Linked DNA regions of Homo sapiens: region 1 is linked to region 2. A link means that fine-mapping ties the variant in region 2 to the expression of a gene that starts in the linked region. Tissue or cell type: anterior cingulate cortex. Region 2 holds a variant in brackets; the other region holds the start of a gene. All regions are shown on one strand. Distances are from middle to middle.

Evidence for each region. PIP is the estimated chance that this variant, and not a neighbour inherited with it, causes the effect.
Region 1: ZFP90 starts here. The variant in region 2 is fine-mapped to the expression of ZFP90 in anterior cingulate cortex (GTEx, PIP 0.97).

The regions. Positions count from the first base shown.
Region 1 is chr16:68,536,119-68,544,221 of GRCh38, forward strand. ZFP90 (ZFP90 zinc finger protein) reads left to right here and starts at 3,173. Exons shown (of 5, transcript NM_001305203.2): 1 at 3,173-3,361; 2 at 3,640-3,707. The coding sequence starts at 3,675.
Region 2 is chr16:68,593,270-68,601,372 of GRCh38, forward strand. No RefSeq gene overlaps it. Among named protein-coding and RNA genes, the nearest start is that of CDH3, 48 kb to the right of the region's middle. The variant G/A (reference allele first, on the strand shown) is at 3,593.

The sequences.
Region 1 (8,103 bases), 57 kb before region 2:
TGCTCTCCTTACAAACAGCGTTGTTCTCTTTCCCTTTTCTCTGGGAGGTACCAGTGCAGGTTTTAAAACCTCTGCTCTCCTGGGTAGGCTCAATGTTTGAGTGCTCTTTCTCACATTCATCTTGCAAGTAGGAGCGGTGGTGAACGCTGCCTTCCGCACTAGGTGGAAGGCTTACTCGTCTAAGGAATTCTTTTTCTTTCTTTTGAGAGAGGGTCTTGCTCTGTCACGCCAGCTGGAGTACAGTGGCACGATCTCAGCTCACTGCATCCTCAACCTCCCCTAGCTCAAGCTGATTCTCCCACCTCAGCCTCCCCAGTAGTTGGGGACTACCGGCATGCCACCACACCTGGCATTATTATTACTATTGTAGAAACAAGGTCTCACTATGTTGACCAGGATGGTCTGGAACGCCTAGGCTCAAGCGATCCTCCCTCCTCAGCCTCCCAAAGTGTGGGAATTATAGGCCACTGTGCCTGGGTACGGATTTTTCCTTTTCTTTCCCGTCATACTCTTATATAGCCTGGGAAAAGAGGGGTGGCATTGCGTCAGTGGTTAATAGTAACAGCAAATTCAGAATTCAGCACCCAGCTTCCTTTGATAAGACCTGAGAGGTTCTCACCCCAAATGTTTTCATCTTTCCTTAGAATGCAGAACTTAATCCTCAACTCTTGAGACCTGGTTACCAATTCTGGGACAGTAGGAAAAATTCCTCTTATTCTCTCATAGTAATAAGTGACTCCACTGCTGTTACTAAGCCAATGGCTCTCATCACACTCAAAATCCACACCCCTCATCACAACCTCCAAAGCCTTGTTCCATCAAGTCCCAGTCTACCTGCCCTACCTCTGCTCTGCTCACTCTCTTATCCCTCACTCTGCTAAGGTACATTAGGCATCTATCTGTTCCTAAGCACACCAAGCTTGTTCCCATCTGACAGCTTTTGCACCTTCAGTTTCTTCAGCCTGGAATTCTTTTCCCCTTATGCACCTGCAGTTGTTTTGTTGTTGTTGGGCTTTTTTTTTTTTGAGACAGAGTCTCCATCTCTCACCCAGGTTGGAGTGCAGTGGTGCAATCTTGGCTCACTGCAACCCCCACCTCCCAGGTTCAAGCGATTCCCCTGCTACAGCCTCCCAAGTAGCTGTGAGTACAGGCGCACGCCACCACACCCTGCTAATTTTTGTATGTTTAGTAGAGATGGGGTTTTACTATGTTGGCCAGGCTGGTCTCGAACTCCTGACCTCAAGTGATCTGCCCCCCTCAGCCTCCCAAAGTGCTGGGATTACAGGCGTGAGCCACCATGCCCAGCCTGCAGTTGCCTTAAGTTGCAGCTACTAAGTCACTTGCCTCAGAGAGGCCTCCCGGTCCACTCTAATTCATACTTGTGAATTATGCATTCTGCTAATTCCAGACCACTATATTCACAAAGCAGTGATAGAAAGCATTCATTAATTTTTATATATATTTTTTGAGACAGTCTCGCTTTGTCGCCCAGGTCGGAGTGCTGTGGTGAAATCACAGCCCACCACAACCTCTGCTTCCCGGGTTCAAACGATCTTCCCACCTCAGCCTCCCAAGTAGCTGGGACCACAGGCGCACACTATTGCAACCAGTTAATGTTTGTATTTTTTGTAGAGACAGGGTTTTGCCATGTTGCCCAAGCTGGTCTTTTAATTCCTGGGCTCCTCCCTCCTCAGCCTCCCTGTGCTATTGACGTGTTATTTCATTACTTGTTAGCCCCTTGCGCAGGATTTTGTGTTTGGGACAAGCCAACAGTGATGGAAATTTTCTCCCTTTTTTGTTTTGTTTTTTTTGAGATGGAGTTTTGCTGTTGTTGCCCAGGTTGGAGTGCAATGGTGCAATCTCGGCTCACCACAACCTCTGCCTCCCAGATTCAAGCGATTCTCCTGCCTCAGCTTTCTGAGTAGCTGGGATTACAGGCATGCGCCACCAAGCCTGGCTAATTTTGTATTTTTAGTAGAGACGAGCTATCTCCATGTTGGTCAGGCTGGTCTCGAACTCCTGACCTCAGGTGATCCGCCAGCCTCAGCCTCCCAAAGTGCTGGGATCACAGGCTTGAGCCACCGCACCCGGCATAAAGCATTTATTTTTGAATGTTCATATTTTTGATAAAGCAGTGTGACATCAGGAACATTTCGTTGCAGTCATTTTCTACCATGTTGGTATGCAATGCTCTAATGTTAAGAAATCAAGCTGAAATCTAGGAAATGTAGCCTGAATGTCTGTGATATATAAGACATAATTACATAAACGTAATAGCTGTATCTAAAAGTTGACCTATCTTTGTGTTGAAAATTTCCATCGGGCCGGGCGCGGTTGCCCATGCCTGTAATCCCAGCACTTTGGGAGGCCGAGGCGAGTTCGAGACCAGCATGACCAACATGGAGAAAACCTGTCTCTACTAAATATACAAAATTAGACGGGCCTGGTGACGCATCGCATGCCTGTAATCCCAGCTACTCGGGAGGCTGAGGCGGGAGAATCGCTTGAACCCAGGAGGCGGAGGCTGCGGTGAGCCAAAATCGCGCCATTGCACTCCAACCTAGGCAACAAGAGCGAAACTGTGTCTCAAAAAAAAAAAAGAAAATTTCCATCATTGTTTGCTTGTCCCAAACAAAATCCTGCGTAAGGGGATACGAAGTAATGAAATAACACGGCAGTAGATCTGCCTTTGCACATTGCTCAGGAGGCCACGGATTTGTCCGAAGTTTCTTTTTTCTCTAAAATGAGAAATGGAAAATTGCCTTTTGAAGAAGATGTAAATGCCCCACCCTCTGACGCTGTCTCACTCCCTTCCTGTGTCACTCTTACCGCTGAAGTCAGGACCTGACATTATCTTGTTGACATGTTTGCGTTTTTATCGTCAGCCTCGTCGAAAGGGGCGTACGATTGCTCCCCGAAACCAGGGTCTTTCCCGGCCGATTCCCCAGCTAGCAACAAGCCCCTTGCAAAGAGGAGGCGGACAGTGACTGGAATACAGGGACACGCACACTCGAGCCACACTGGCCGCCTCCCTCGGCCCTCGCAAGGGTCCCTAACGCGCCTTCGGAAGCCGCCTAGGCGGGGCCTGCGCGCGCGGGCCTCTGGGAAGTGTAGTTCGCGCGCCCGGCGTGGACCCGGGGTTGCAGGAGCGAGGCTCCGAGTGCGCAGGCGCACTTCCAGTTCTGCCCCACCGCTGCGGCCATTGTCCGACCCCGGTGCGGCTGAGGCCCCTTTGGGCAGCCCCTCCGCAGATCAGAATTGGAGATAACCGAGGCTTCGGCGGGGGCGGGAGGAGCTGCCCGAGGCTCTGGGTGGGCCGGAGGTCGCGAAATCCGGAGCCCCCCAGAGGCGGTGATTCTGAGTGCGCGGGTCTGGGCGGGACCCCTCCTGGGTTTGGCGGGTGTCAGCCGGGCCTCGCCCACCACCCTGCGAAGGGGACTGGGCGTGGCCGGAGGGGGGTGTCCGGGAGGCCGCTGAGCCTTTCATTTCGGGGATGGGGAGCGGCAGGCCCGGGCTGGTTCCACGGTCCTCGCCACCATCTCCCCTGGAGATGTGGTTTAGGGGCGGAGGTGGGGCGGGGCGGGGCGGGGTGGGGTCGGTGTTGCAGCGGGGTGAGTGGGCCCTGTCCTTTCTCCCCAGCTCCTGCCCCGGAGCCGGGCCCTGGCGAGGCAGGAATGGCCCCGAGGCCTCCGACCGCCGCGCCCCAGGTGAGCAACGCGTTCCTAACCTCCTGGGCATCCCATCCATCTATCCATCCCATCTCCCAAGGGTGTTTGGAGCAGTCATTGTTCTCTGCCTGGCGACTCCCTTACTTGCTTGGCTCGATCGGAGCCTCCTGGCCATGGAAAACCCCAGGCTTTGGGGAGCTGGATTCCCAAAGGGGAGGCTGCTCTGTGGGGTAGAGAGGGCCAGTGTGGTGCGATCTTGTGGGAGGAGTTGAGATTGGATGCGTTGGGAAGTGTCAGTTTTGAGAGTCCTGAATGCCACGCCAGTTTTTTGAACTCTTGTCAATAAGAAATGGAGAGAGTGGGGTCACAGGATGGAACACTGTAGAGGAGGAAGTGACTGTCGGCAAGTGTGGAGAGAGGAGCCCCAGCTTCTGACCCAGGGCCCATAGAGAGTCCGTAAGGGGCCGTAGAAGCCTGGTTAGAACATGTCTAGGAAGAGGCTGGAGATGGGCTTTCTTGGGCAAGGAGGCAAAAACAAAACAAAATAAAAAACAACCAAAAATAAAACCAGGGCTGATTCTCCCAGAGCTTTTTGTGTCTGTCCTTTTCTGCTTTAACAAAAATGTAATAGAGCAACTCACTCCCCACCGCCAGAAGTCCAGCCTTCACCTTAATGTGAGGCTGATTCGTGAACCCATTTATTCTTGTGGCAGAGGGGGCATTTTCTAGAAGCGTCACAACTCTAAGGTTATCCATTGATTTACATATTGGTGAAAATACATCAAGATCCAGATGGTATCTGTATCTTTGAATCTACATTCTCTTTAGAATTAAGGGAAAATGACAGATTGTAGTTGCTAGGTGTGTGAGACATCAAGATCAATTCAAATAAAAATACCAAGTTGCCAGGTACAGTGGGTCACACCTGTAAGTCCAGCACTTTGGGAAGCTGAGGCAATAGGATCGTTTAAGCCCAGGAATTTGAGACCAGCCTGGGCAACATAGTGAGACTCCGTCTCTGCAAAAAAAAAAAAAAAAAAAAAATTTAAAAGATAAAAACACCAACTTAGTAATGTCCTTTAAAAGAGCAGTTTATAGTGAATTAAGCATACAATACATCATGCCTTTTTTTTTTTTTTTTTTGAAACAGGGTCTCTTGTCACCCAGTCTGGAGTACAGTGACATGATCTTGGCTCACTGCAACCTCTGCCATGGTGCACGCCACCATGCCCGGCTAATTTTTGTATTTTTTGGTTTATTTTATTTTTTGAGACAGTCTCATTCTGTCACCCAGGCTGAAGTGTAGTGGCATGATCTCGGCTCACTGCAACCTCCACCTCCTGGGTTCAAGTGATTCTCCTGCCTCAACCTCCCTAGTAGCTGGGATTAACAGGTGTACACCACCACACCCGGCTAATTTTTTTGTATTTTAGTAGAGTCAGGGTTTTACCATGTTGGCCAGTCTGGTCTCGAACTCCTGACGTCAATTGATCCGCCCACGTTGGCCTCCCAAGGTGCTGGGATTACAGATGTGAGCCACCACGCCTGGCCTAATTTTTGTTTTTTTTTGTAAAGATGGGGTTTCTCCAGGCTGGATTTGAATTCCTAAGCTCAAGTGATGTGCTCGCTTCAGCCTCCCAAAGTGTTGGGATTACAGGTGTGAGCCACCACAGCTGGGCATGTGCCACCATGCCCAGCTAATTTTTGTATTTTTAGTAAAGATGGGGTTTCACCATGTTGGCCAGGATGGTCTCGATCTCCTGACCTCCCAAAGTTCTGGGATTACAGGCGTGAGCCACCGGGCCCGGCCTGCGTTTTTATATATATATATACTTCTTATTATATGTTTCTGTTTTTACAGGGATGAGCCTTAAGGAGTAAGACACCTGCCAATACTAAAACAAGACAGTTACTTGGTTTGAGGAGAGCCAGAGCACATCATGATCGTTATCCCCTTTACATGCAAAGTATCCTCCATAGGCTTGTGAGAATTAGATGACTTAACACCTCATCAGGGACTCTGGTCTTTTCCATAGTGGGAGGATACCTTTTTAGTGGTGAAAGTGGATTCATGTTCTGAGCAGTGAATTTTAAGGACCACTGTAAACTTGACTTTTCAAGCTATGTTCCCTGAACGCCCTGGCTCAGTTGCATTCTCATTGAATGGCCTGATGATGTCCATGTGGGTTATCTAACTCAGGCTGCAGATAACCAGGGATGAAGGACAGAACAGAACACTGGTCCTAAACGGGGCTTTTCAGGCAGAAATTTCCCTTTAGCAGTGGTTCCCTGAGCATGACCCTCAGGGGAATGCAAAGATTAGTAATGAGTCCTGTGACTGCTTAACTGTAAAGTTAATTTAGTGGGAGCAGACAGTCTCCTGCAGAAGTAGAGCGCAAGAGAGCTGGTGTCAAGTGTTGTTGCGGAGGTCCAGAGGCTGCTTGGAGTTGAGAGGGACCAGGACATTCTGCCGGTGGGAAGAAGTCAGTGGAGTTTTCACCTTTGAATAGGAGCAGAGTCTAAGCAGGTGAAAACAAAAGGGGACTGTAATCCCAGCACTTTGGGAGGCGGAGGCAAGCGGATCACTTGAGGTCAGGAGTTCGAGACCAGCCTGGCCAACATGGTGAAACCCTGTTTCCACTAAAAATACAAAAATTAGCTAGCCATGGTGACGGGCGCCTGTAGTCCCAGCTACTAGGGAGGCTGAGGCAGGAGAATCGCTTGAACCTGGGAGGTGGAGGTTGCAGTGAACCGAGATCCTGCCACTGCACTCCAGCCTGGGTGACAGAGTGAGACTCCATCTCAAAAAAACCAACCCCAAAAAACAAAAGGGAGAGGGTAGAGCTGATTGATTTGGTGAATCGGGAGTTGGGAGGCAAGAAGATGGCGGTGCATGTTCATTAAAGCATTTTCTTTGTAACACCAGCTGTGGGCTGCTGGCAGTGGGTAGAGGAGAATAGAAGGAGTTTGGACTTGTTCTTTTTGGCCTTGTAACTCGTTCATTCATCATTCATTCATCTACTCATTCACCAGGTAGTCATTGAGCCCTATGATGTGTCAGGCACTTTTCTAGGCAGTTGGGATAACTTCAGTGAACAAAATTAGGACCCTGCTCTCAAGGAGCTTACATTCTAGAGAGGACAGACAGAAGAATTCAGTAAATAAATAAATTGTATGGTATCCTAGAAGGCAGTAGTATCTCAAGAGGGAAAAAAGGTAGAGAAAGGTAAGGGGGTCTGAGTGGGGAGGTGGGAGGTTTGTAGTCGGGGTGCAATTTAAAATGATGTGGTCAGGGTAAGCCTTATCCTTATTGAGATGGTGACACCTGAGCAGACTTGAAGGCGATGAGGGAGTAGATGTGTAGGGGAAGAGTGCTCTGGGCAGAGGGAACAGCCTAGCGGCAAGATGTATGTCTGGTGTATTCAAGGAGCAGCAAAGAGGCCAGTGTAGCTTGAGCTGGTGATTTGGGGCAGGGAACTAATACAACTTCATAGATTTTTTAAAAGATTGCCATGAATGATGAATCCTAGGATAAAAAGTTTGATATTATATTTGATAATAGTTCCTTTAGAGAGGTGTTTTGATGAGTGGGACCTTTCCCCTGAACATAGTTAACAAATTCCTGAACTGGCTCCACCTGAAGCGGGATGGGACTAGGAGCAGAGATGGAGGAGCCGGGATACCCATTTAGAATGTTTACGTAGATATAGCTGTGTATTTATAGGATTGTTAGTAGCAATGTCTATGTAAACATTATACATCCTTATTTGCCTTTTTTTCTTTTTTTTTTTTTGAGACAGAGTCTTGCTCTGTCGCCAGGCTAGAGTGCAGTGGCGTGATCTTGGCTCACCGCAACCTCTGCCTCCCTGATTCAAGCTATTTTCCTGCCTCAGTCTCCCGAGTAGCTGGGATTACAGGCATGTGTCACCACGCCCAGCTAATTTTTGTATTTTTGGTACAGACAGGGTTTCACCATGTTGACCAGGATGGTCTCGATCTCCTGACCTCATGATCTGCCTGTCTCAGCCTCCCAAAGTGCTGGGATTATAGGCGTGAGCCACTGTGTCTGGCCTGCCCTTTTTTTTTTTTTTTTCGAGGTAGAGTCTTGCTCTATCAGTGTGCAGTGTGCAATGTTGTCTCGCTGCAACCTCTGCCTCCCAGGTTCAAGCAATTCTCCTGCCTCAGCCTCCCAAGTAGCTGGGATTACAGGTGTGCACCACCACGCCCGGCTAATTTTTTGTATTTTTACTAGAGATGGGGTTTCACTATGTTGGCCAGACTGGTCTTGAACTCCTGACCTCAAGTGATCCACCCACCTTGGCCTCCCAAAATGCTGGGATTACAGGTGTGAGCCACCACACTGGCTGGCCTCTTTTTCATAACATGTGTACTACATTTTTAGTTAGGAAACAAAAAAGGCATTTGCCATTCTTAA
Region 2 (8,103 bases):
GGCAGAGCTGATGAGGGTTAAGAGAGCTAAGTGAAAGAAGTGACAAGACCTAGAGTCATAGGATATATTAATATTTTTAAAGAGAGTTTTGATTCTCCCACCAACAGTCTAGAACTGGGGGCATTCACAGTTTGTCTCCAGAGAGGGCAGAAGGCTGGCGGGAGGAGTGAGCAATCCACCAGCACTGCCATTTGGGTAATAATTGAGCATTTTCTTTTTCTTTTTTCTTTCTTTTTTTTTTTTGAGATGAAGTCTCACTTTGTCGCCCAGGCTGGAGTGCAGTGGCATGATCTCGGCTCACTGCAACCTCCGCCTCCTGGGTTCAAGAAATTCTCCTGCCTCAGCCACCCAAGTAGCTGGGATTACAGGTGTGTGCCACTATGCCCAGCTAATTTTTTTTGTATTTTTAGTAGAGACGGGGTTTCGCCATGTTGGCCAGGCTGGTCTTGAACCCCTGACCTCAGGTGACCCGCCTGCTTTGGACTGCCAAAATGCTGGGATTACAGGTGTGAGACACCATGCCCAGGGGGAACTGTAAATTAAAACAACGAGTTGAGGCACCCGACCTTCAACTGTCATGTTATGAGAACACTCAAGTAGCCCTATGAAGAGGTATAACAGGATTGAGGCCTTCTGCAAACAGCTAGCACCAACTTGCCAGCCATGTAAGTGAACCATCTTGAAAGTGATTGTGCAGCCCCAGTAAAGCCTTCAGATGACTGCAGTCCCAGCAACATCTTTTTTTTTTGTTTGAGATGGAGTCTCGCTCTGTCGCCCAGGCTGGAGTGCAGTGGCACGATCTCCGCTCACTGCAAGCTCCGCCTCCCGGGTTCACACCATTCTCCTGCCTCAGCCTCCTGAGTAGCTGGGACTACAGGCACCCGCCACCATGCCCGGCTAATTTTTTTGTATTTTTAGTAGAGACAGGGTTTCATCCTGTTAGCCAGGATGGTCTCGATCTCCTGACCTCGTGATCCACCTGCCTCGGCCTCCCAAAGTGCTGGGATTACAGGCATAAGCCACCATGCCCGGCCTCCAGCAACATCTTAACCATAACCTTGTCAGAGACCCCAAGCCAAAACCACTCAGTCAAGCCACTTGCAAATTTTTTATCCATAGAAACTATGTGAGATAATAAATGTCTGTTTTTAAGCCATTACCTTTTGGGATCATTTGTTATGCAGCAACAGATCACTGTTCTATTTGCTTTTTTCATTCCGCTTATAGATTCTATCCAAGTTTCTCTGTGTTTGTTTAGTTCAGAAGTCATCAGAGTTTTACTATAAAGGGCTAGATAGTAGATATTTCAAGTTAAAATTTGAATTCATGTAATTTTCATGGTCACAAGCTATCCTTTTGATTTTTCTCCAACCAGGTTCTAGTGATCTAGTATACAGCATGGTGATAGTTAATAATAATATATATTTCAAAAAAGCTAAAAGAACAGATCTTAAATGTTCTCATCGCAAAGAAACAGTAAGTATATGAGGTGATAAGTATGTTAATTAGCCTGATTTGATCATTCCATAATGTATACAGGTACTGAAACATCATTTCATACCCCACAGATATACACAATTATTATTTGTCAGTTAAAAATAAAACTGAATGGCCCCACTCAGTGGCGCATGCCTGTAATCCCAACTCTTTGGGAAACCAAGGCAGGCAGATCACTTGTGCCCAGGAGTCTGAGAACAGCCTGGGCAATATGGCAAAACCCTACCTCTAATAAAATAAATAAATAAAATAGGCTGGGTGCGGTGGCTCATTTCCTATAATCCCAGCACTTTGGGAGGCCGAGGCGGGCAAATCGCTTGAGTTCAAGACCAGCTGGGCCAACTCGGTGAAACCCCGTCTCTACTAAAAATACAAAAATTAACTGGATGTGGTGGCATGCACCTGTAATCCCAGCTACTTGGGAGGCTGAGACAGGATAATCACTTGAACCAGGGAGGTGGAGGTTGCAGTGAGCCAAGATCGCACCACTGCACTCCAGCTTGGGTGACGGAGTGAGACTCTGTCTCAAAAGAAAAAAAAAAGCTGGACGTGGCGGCTCATGCCTGTAATCCCAGCACTTTGGGAGGCCGAGACGGGTGGATCACGAGGTCAGGAGATCGAGACCATCTTGGCCAACATGGTGAAACCCCATCTCTACTAAAATATAAAAAATTAGCCGGGCATGGTGGCGCATGCCTGTAGTCCCAGCTACTGGGGAGGCTGAGGCAGGAGAATCGCTTGAACCCAGGAGCCAGAGGTTGCAGTGAGCTGATATGGCACCATTGCACTCCAGCCTAGCGACAGAGCAAAACTCTGTCTCAAAAAAAAAAAAAAAAGAAAGAAAGAAATGAAAACGTGTCTACACAAAAACTTCATAGCAGCACTATTCATAGTAGCCCCAAAATAGGGAAAAAAGCCCACAGATGTCTATCAACTGATGAATGGATACATAAAATGTGGCATATTCAACTATAAAAAAAATTAAATGTTTATATATGCTACAAAATAGACAAGACTTGCAAGCATTATCCTAAATGAAAAAAGTCAGTCAAAAGACAACACATTATATGATTTCATTTCTATGAAATGTCCAGAATAAGCACATCTATAGAGATAGAAAGTAGATGAGTACTTGCCTGGGGCTCCGGGGCCTGAGAAGACTGGAGGGTGAGAGCTCCTGAGTAGGGTTTTGGCCGGGCGCAGCTCACACCTGAAATTGCAGCATTTTGGGAGGCTGAGGCAGAGGATCCCTTGAATTCAGGAGTTGAAGACCAATCTAGGCAACAAAATTAGACTCCATCTCTAAAAAATAAAATAAAGAGTATGGTTTTGTTTTTCGTTTTAGTTTTTTTGTTTGTTTTTTTGAGTCGTCTTGCTCTGTCGCCCAAGTTAGAGTACAGGGGTAGGATCATGGCTCACTGCAGCTTCAAACTCCCGGGCTCAAGCGATCGTCCTGCCTCAGCCTCATGAATAGCTGGGACTACAGGTTTGTGTCACCACACCCAGCTAAGGTTCTTTTTGGGTTTTCTTGTTTTTAATGTTGCCTACGCTGGTCTTGAACTCCCAGACTTAAGCAATCCTCCCTCATCGCTGAGACTACAGGCGGGAGCCATTGCTCCTGGCAAGAGTACAGATTTCTTCTTGGGATGATGAAAATGTTCTAAAACTGATTGTGATCATGGTTGTGCAACTCTGTGAATAGACTAAAACCTGCTGAAGCACACATTTAAAATGGGCGAATCGTGTGGTATGTGAATTACATCTCGATAGACATTTTAAAAAACAAGGGAAGGTGTGCCACAGTTTGTTCATCACTGACAGCACTGTAGGTGCTTAGCCTTTTTCAAAGCACCTTTCCTAGAACTGTTGCAACCAGCCAAGCATTAACTCCTTACATAGCTGAGCAAGACAAGGCTCAAAGGAAGAACTAATTTGCGCAAGGTCACAGGTGACCAATGTGAGGTGTGAGCAGAATGCAGGTCTTTGGACTCCATGTCCAGTGCTCAGCCCAGCACAGCCTTTCTAAGAGTTACATCCAGAGATTGGGTAATCATGGCCTCAAAGCTCCAGGGCAGAGAAAATGACAGGAGGGGAC[G/A]AATCCCTCTACCTGTCCCACCTGCTGCCTCTGCCACACCCACCAGCCATTCCAATGACAGCTTTCTCCTCCTCGCCCCATGCTCCCCACCTTCCTTTTCTCTGCCTTCCTTCCCAGCACTGCTAAGCAAAGCTGTCACTCCCTGTGTCTTGCTTAGCAGTGCTAGGAAGGAAAGGAGGAAAAGGACTGGAAGCCTTTTCCAGAAATTTAGTCCACATGACATATATGGGAAAGGGCTCACACAGGGTGAGGAATCAATCCAAGGCCACACAGCTGGCAATTTGACCTTGATTTCCTTAATATCTTTGAGAATGAAAGGAGAGGGGTTTGGGGCTGGAGTAGGGCTTGAGGTGAGCAAAACCCCATCCCATTCCTGACTCTTTTCTCATAGCGTCCCCCTCCACAGCTTCCCCCAACTTTCATATATCCAGAGCCGCTACTGTGAAGGTGACTGGGGTAGATCTCTTAAAATTAATTGCAGAAAAACCAGAAAGAATCTTTTTTTTTTTTTTTTTTTGAGACGGAGTCTCGCTCTGTCACCCAGGCTGGAGTGCAGTGGCGTGATCTCAGCTCACTGCAACCTCCACCTTCCGGGTTCACACCATTCTCCTGCCTCAGAGTCCTGAGTAGCTGGGACTACAGGTGCCCGCCACCACGCCCAGCTAATTTTTTTTTGGTATTTTTAGTAGAGACGGGGTTTCACTGTGTTAGCCAGGATGGTCTCGATCTCCTGACCTTGTGATCCGCCCGCCTCAGCCTCCCAAAGTACTGGGATTACAAGCATGAGCCACCGTGCCCGGCCAAAAATATCTTTATATCTGGTCTTAAACTCCTGACCTCAGGCAATCTGCCCGGCTTGGCCTCCCAAAGTGCTGGGATTACAAGCATGAGCCACCGCACCTGGCCATTTCTTTCTTTTTTTTTTTTTTATTTGAGGCAGAGTCTGTCTCAGGCTGTCTATCACCCAGGCTGCTGTGCAGTGGCGCAGTCTTGGCTCACTGCAACCTCTGCCGCCTGAGTTTAAGCGATTCTCCTGCCTCAGCCTCCGGAGTAGCTGGGACTACAGGCACGTGCCACCACACCTGGCTGATTTTTTTTGTATTTTTAGTAGAGACAGGGTTTCACCATGTTAGCCAGGATGGTCTTGATCTCCTGACCTCGTAATATGCCCGCCTCGGCCTCCCAAAGTGTTGGAATTACAGGCGTGAGCCACCACACCCGGCCAAGGCCATTTCTTTTAGGTATATATTTAGGAATGAAAATTCTGGGTCGAATAGTAATTATGTTTAACATTTTGAGGGTACACTTGTTTTTACACATTCCAGGAGCTAAAAATGGTTTTTACATTTTTAAATGGTTGGGGAAAAAAAAAAACGAGAATAATATTTTGTGACACATGAAAATTACATCGAATTCAAATGTCAATGTACACCAAGCTTCATTGGATGGCTGAATTCATTCGCTGATGGATTATCTATGGACGCTTTTGCACTACAATGGCAGAGCTGGGTAGTGTGACAGAGACCATATGTCCTGCAAAGCCCAAAATATGTACTACCTGGCCTTTGATAGAAAAGGCTTACCAGGCCGGGCACGGTGGCTCACACCTGTAATCCCAGCACTTTTGGGAGGCTGAGGCGGGTAGATCACCTGAGGTCAGGAGTTCGAGACCAGCCTGGCCAACATGGTGAAACCCCATCTCTACTAAAAATACAAAAATTAGCCAGGCATGGTGGCACGTGCCTATAATCCCAGCTACTCGGGAGGCTGAGGCAGGAGAATCGCTTGAACCCAGAATGGGGAGGTTGCAGTGACCTGAAATCACACCACTGCACTCCAGCCTGGGTGACAGAGCAAGACAACATCTCAAAAAAAAGAAAAGAAAAGAAAAGAAAAAGCTTACCAACCCCTGAACTATGTTTTGGTATTATTAGTTTTTGTTTGCCGCTTGCTAGGGGCAGCTTGGGTGTGCACTGCCTCCAGTTGAGTGGTAGCAGGACCCAGGTCACCAGCCCTTCTCTGCAGGTCCTGGTCTGATAGTATAAAGAAATGAGGCCAGGCGCAGTGGCTCACGCCTATAATCCCAGCACTTTGGGAGGCCGAAGAGGGCGGATCACTTGAGGTCAGGAGTTCGAGACCAGCCTGGCCAATGTGGTGAAACCCTGTCTCTACTAAAAATACAAAAATTAGCCTGGTGTGGTGGTGCGCTCCTGTAGTCCCAGCTACTCGGGAGGCTGAGGGAGGAGAATCGCTTGAACCCAGGAGGCGGAGGTTGCAGTGAGCTGAGATCACACCACTGCACTCCAGCCTGGGCGACAGAGTGAGACTCTGTCTCAAAAAAAAAAGAGAGAGAAATGATAGCTGGCCAGGCATGGTGACTCATGCCTGTAATCCCAGCACTTTGGGAGGCCAAAGCGGGTGAACTGCTTGAGCTGGAGTTGGAAACCAGCCTGGGGAACATAGCAAAACCCCATCTCTACACAAAAAAAAAAAAAAAAAAAAAAAAAAAAAAATTAGCCGGGCATGATAGTGTGCACCTGTAGTCCCAGCTCACACCTCACACTGGAGAGGCTGAGGCAGGAGGATAGGTTGAGCCTGGGAGGCAAAGGTTGCAATGAGCTGAGACTGTGCCACTGCACTCCAGCCTGGGCATTAGAGCAAGACCCTATCTCAAAAAAATTAAAAACAAACAAACAAAAAAAAAAACGAAGAAATGAGAGCTCACATCTGGCCCCATTTTCTGCATGGAGAAACTGAGTCCTGTGGGGGCTGCTCAGGCTCATGCGAACTTGAGGGTAAGTGAGAGCTTAGCTTTCTTCTACTCCCAGGCAGCCTCCTCTCTCCCAGTTAAGAAGACCTGGCCATGAATAATTCATGGCTGGCATTTGCAGAACTCTCCTTCTTGTCAGAGCACTTTGATTATCATTAATTAGTCAGAACCTGGCTCCACTGTTGCCCAATAAAACAAAAACAGAAGTGGCTTTGATGCTCTAGGAGCTTCCATCTCCACACCAAGACTTTGACCTGCAGATTCCTCCTCTCTGCCCATTGTTCCATCACCTCTCAAAGCCTGAAAGCCTATTGTTTTGGCTCAAAAGTCAGGCTTCCCACAGGAAATGAGGCAGTCTCAGACTTGAAGCCCCGACCCTTATAGCTGGTGTCATCTCCTCTCTGCCATCATTGTCCTCGTCTGAAAGATTACAGCAATGATGCCTATCTCTGGGGTTGTTATGAAGATTATTGTTGTGAGTTTATGTTTATAAAAGTGTCCTAAGCTAAGCGTGGTGACTCACACCTGTAATCCTAACACTTTGGGAGGCCAAGGTGGGAGTAGCCCTTGAGCCCGGAGTTCAAGACCAGCCTGGGTAACATAGTAAGACCTCATCTTTACAAAAAATCAAAAAATTAGCTGGGTGTGGTGGCTCCTACCTGTGGTCCCAGCTACTGGGGAGGCTGAGGTGGGAGATCATTTGAGCCCAGGAGACTGAGGCTGCAGCGAGCTATGATTGAGCCATTGCACTCCAGCCTGGGTACACAGTGAGACTCTGTCTCAAAAAAAAAAAAAAAAAAAAGAAGAGGTGTTCTGAAGAGAACTGCATACACTGCTTATGGGAATACAAAATGGTGTAGATGCTTTGGAAATCATTCTGGCAGTTCTCCACATGGTTAAGGATACCGTACAACCCAGCAATTCCACACCTAGGTATCTACCCAAGAGAAATGAAGCACGTGTCCACACAGAAACTTGTACACAAGTGTTCACAGCAACATTATTCATAACAGCCAAAAAGTCGAAACAACCCATATGCCCCTCAACTAATGAATGGACAAATATTAATAAAACATCTAGATCTATACAATGGAATATTGTTTGGCCATAAAAAGTAATGAAGCACTGATCCATGCTACGACATGGATGAACCTTGGAAACATTAAGAAAAAGAAGCCAAGGCTGGGCGTGGTGGCTCCCGCCTGTAATCCCAGCACTTTGGGAGGCCGAGGAGGGCGGATCACGAGGTCAGGCGATCGAGACCATCCTGGCTAACACAGTGAAACCCTGTCTCTACTAAAAATACAAAGTTAGCAGGGTGTGGTGGCAGGCGCCTGTAGTCCGGGCTACTCGGGAGGCTAAGGCAGGAGAATGGCGTGAACCCAGGAGGCGGAGGTTGCAGTGAACCGAGATCAGGCCACTGCACTCCAGCCTGGGTGACAGAGCAAGACTCCGTCTCAAAAAAAAAAAAAAAAAAGAAAAAGAAGCCAGCTGGGTGTGGTGGGTCATGGCTGTAATCTCAGCAGTTTAGGAGGCTGAGATGGGAGGATTGCTTGAACCCAGGAGTTTGAGACCAACCTGGGCAACACAGCAAGACCTCATCTCAAAAAAAAAAAAAAAAAAAGAAGAAAGAAGAAAGAAAAAAAAAGAGAAGCCAAATGCAAAAGGCCACATATTATATGATTCTTACTTACATGAAATGTTCAGAATAAGCAAATCCATAGAAAGAGAATATAAATTA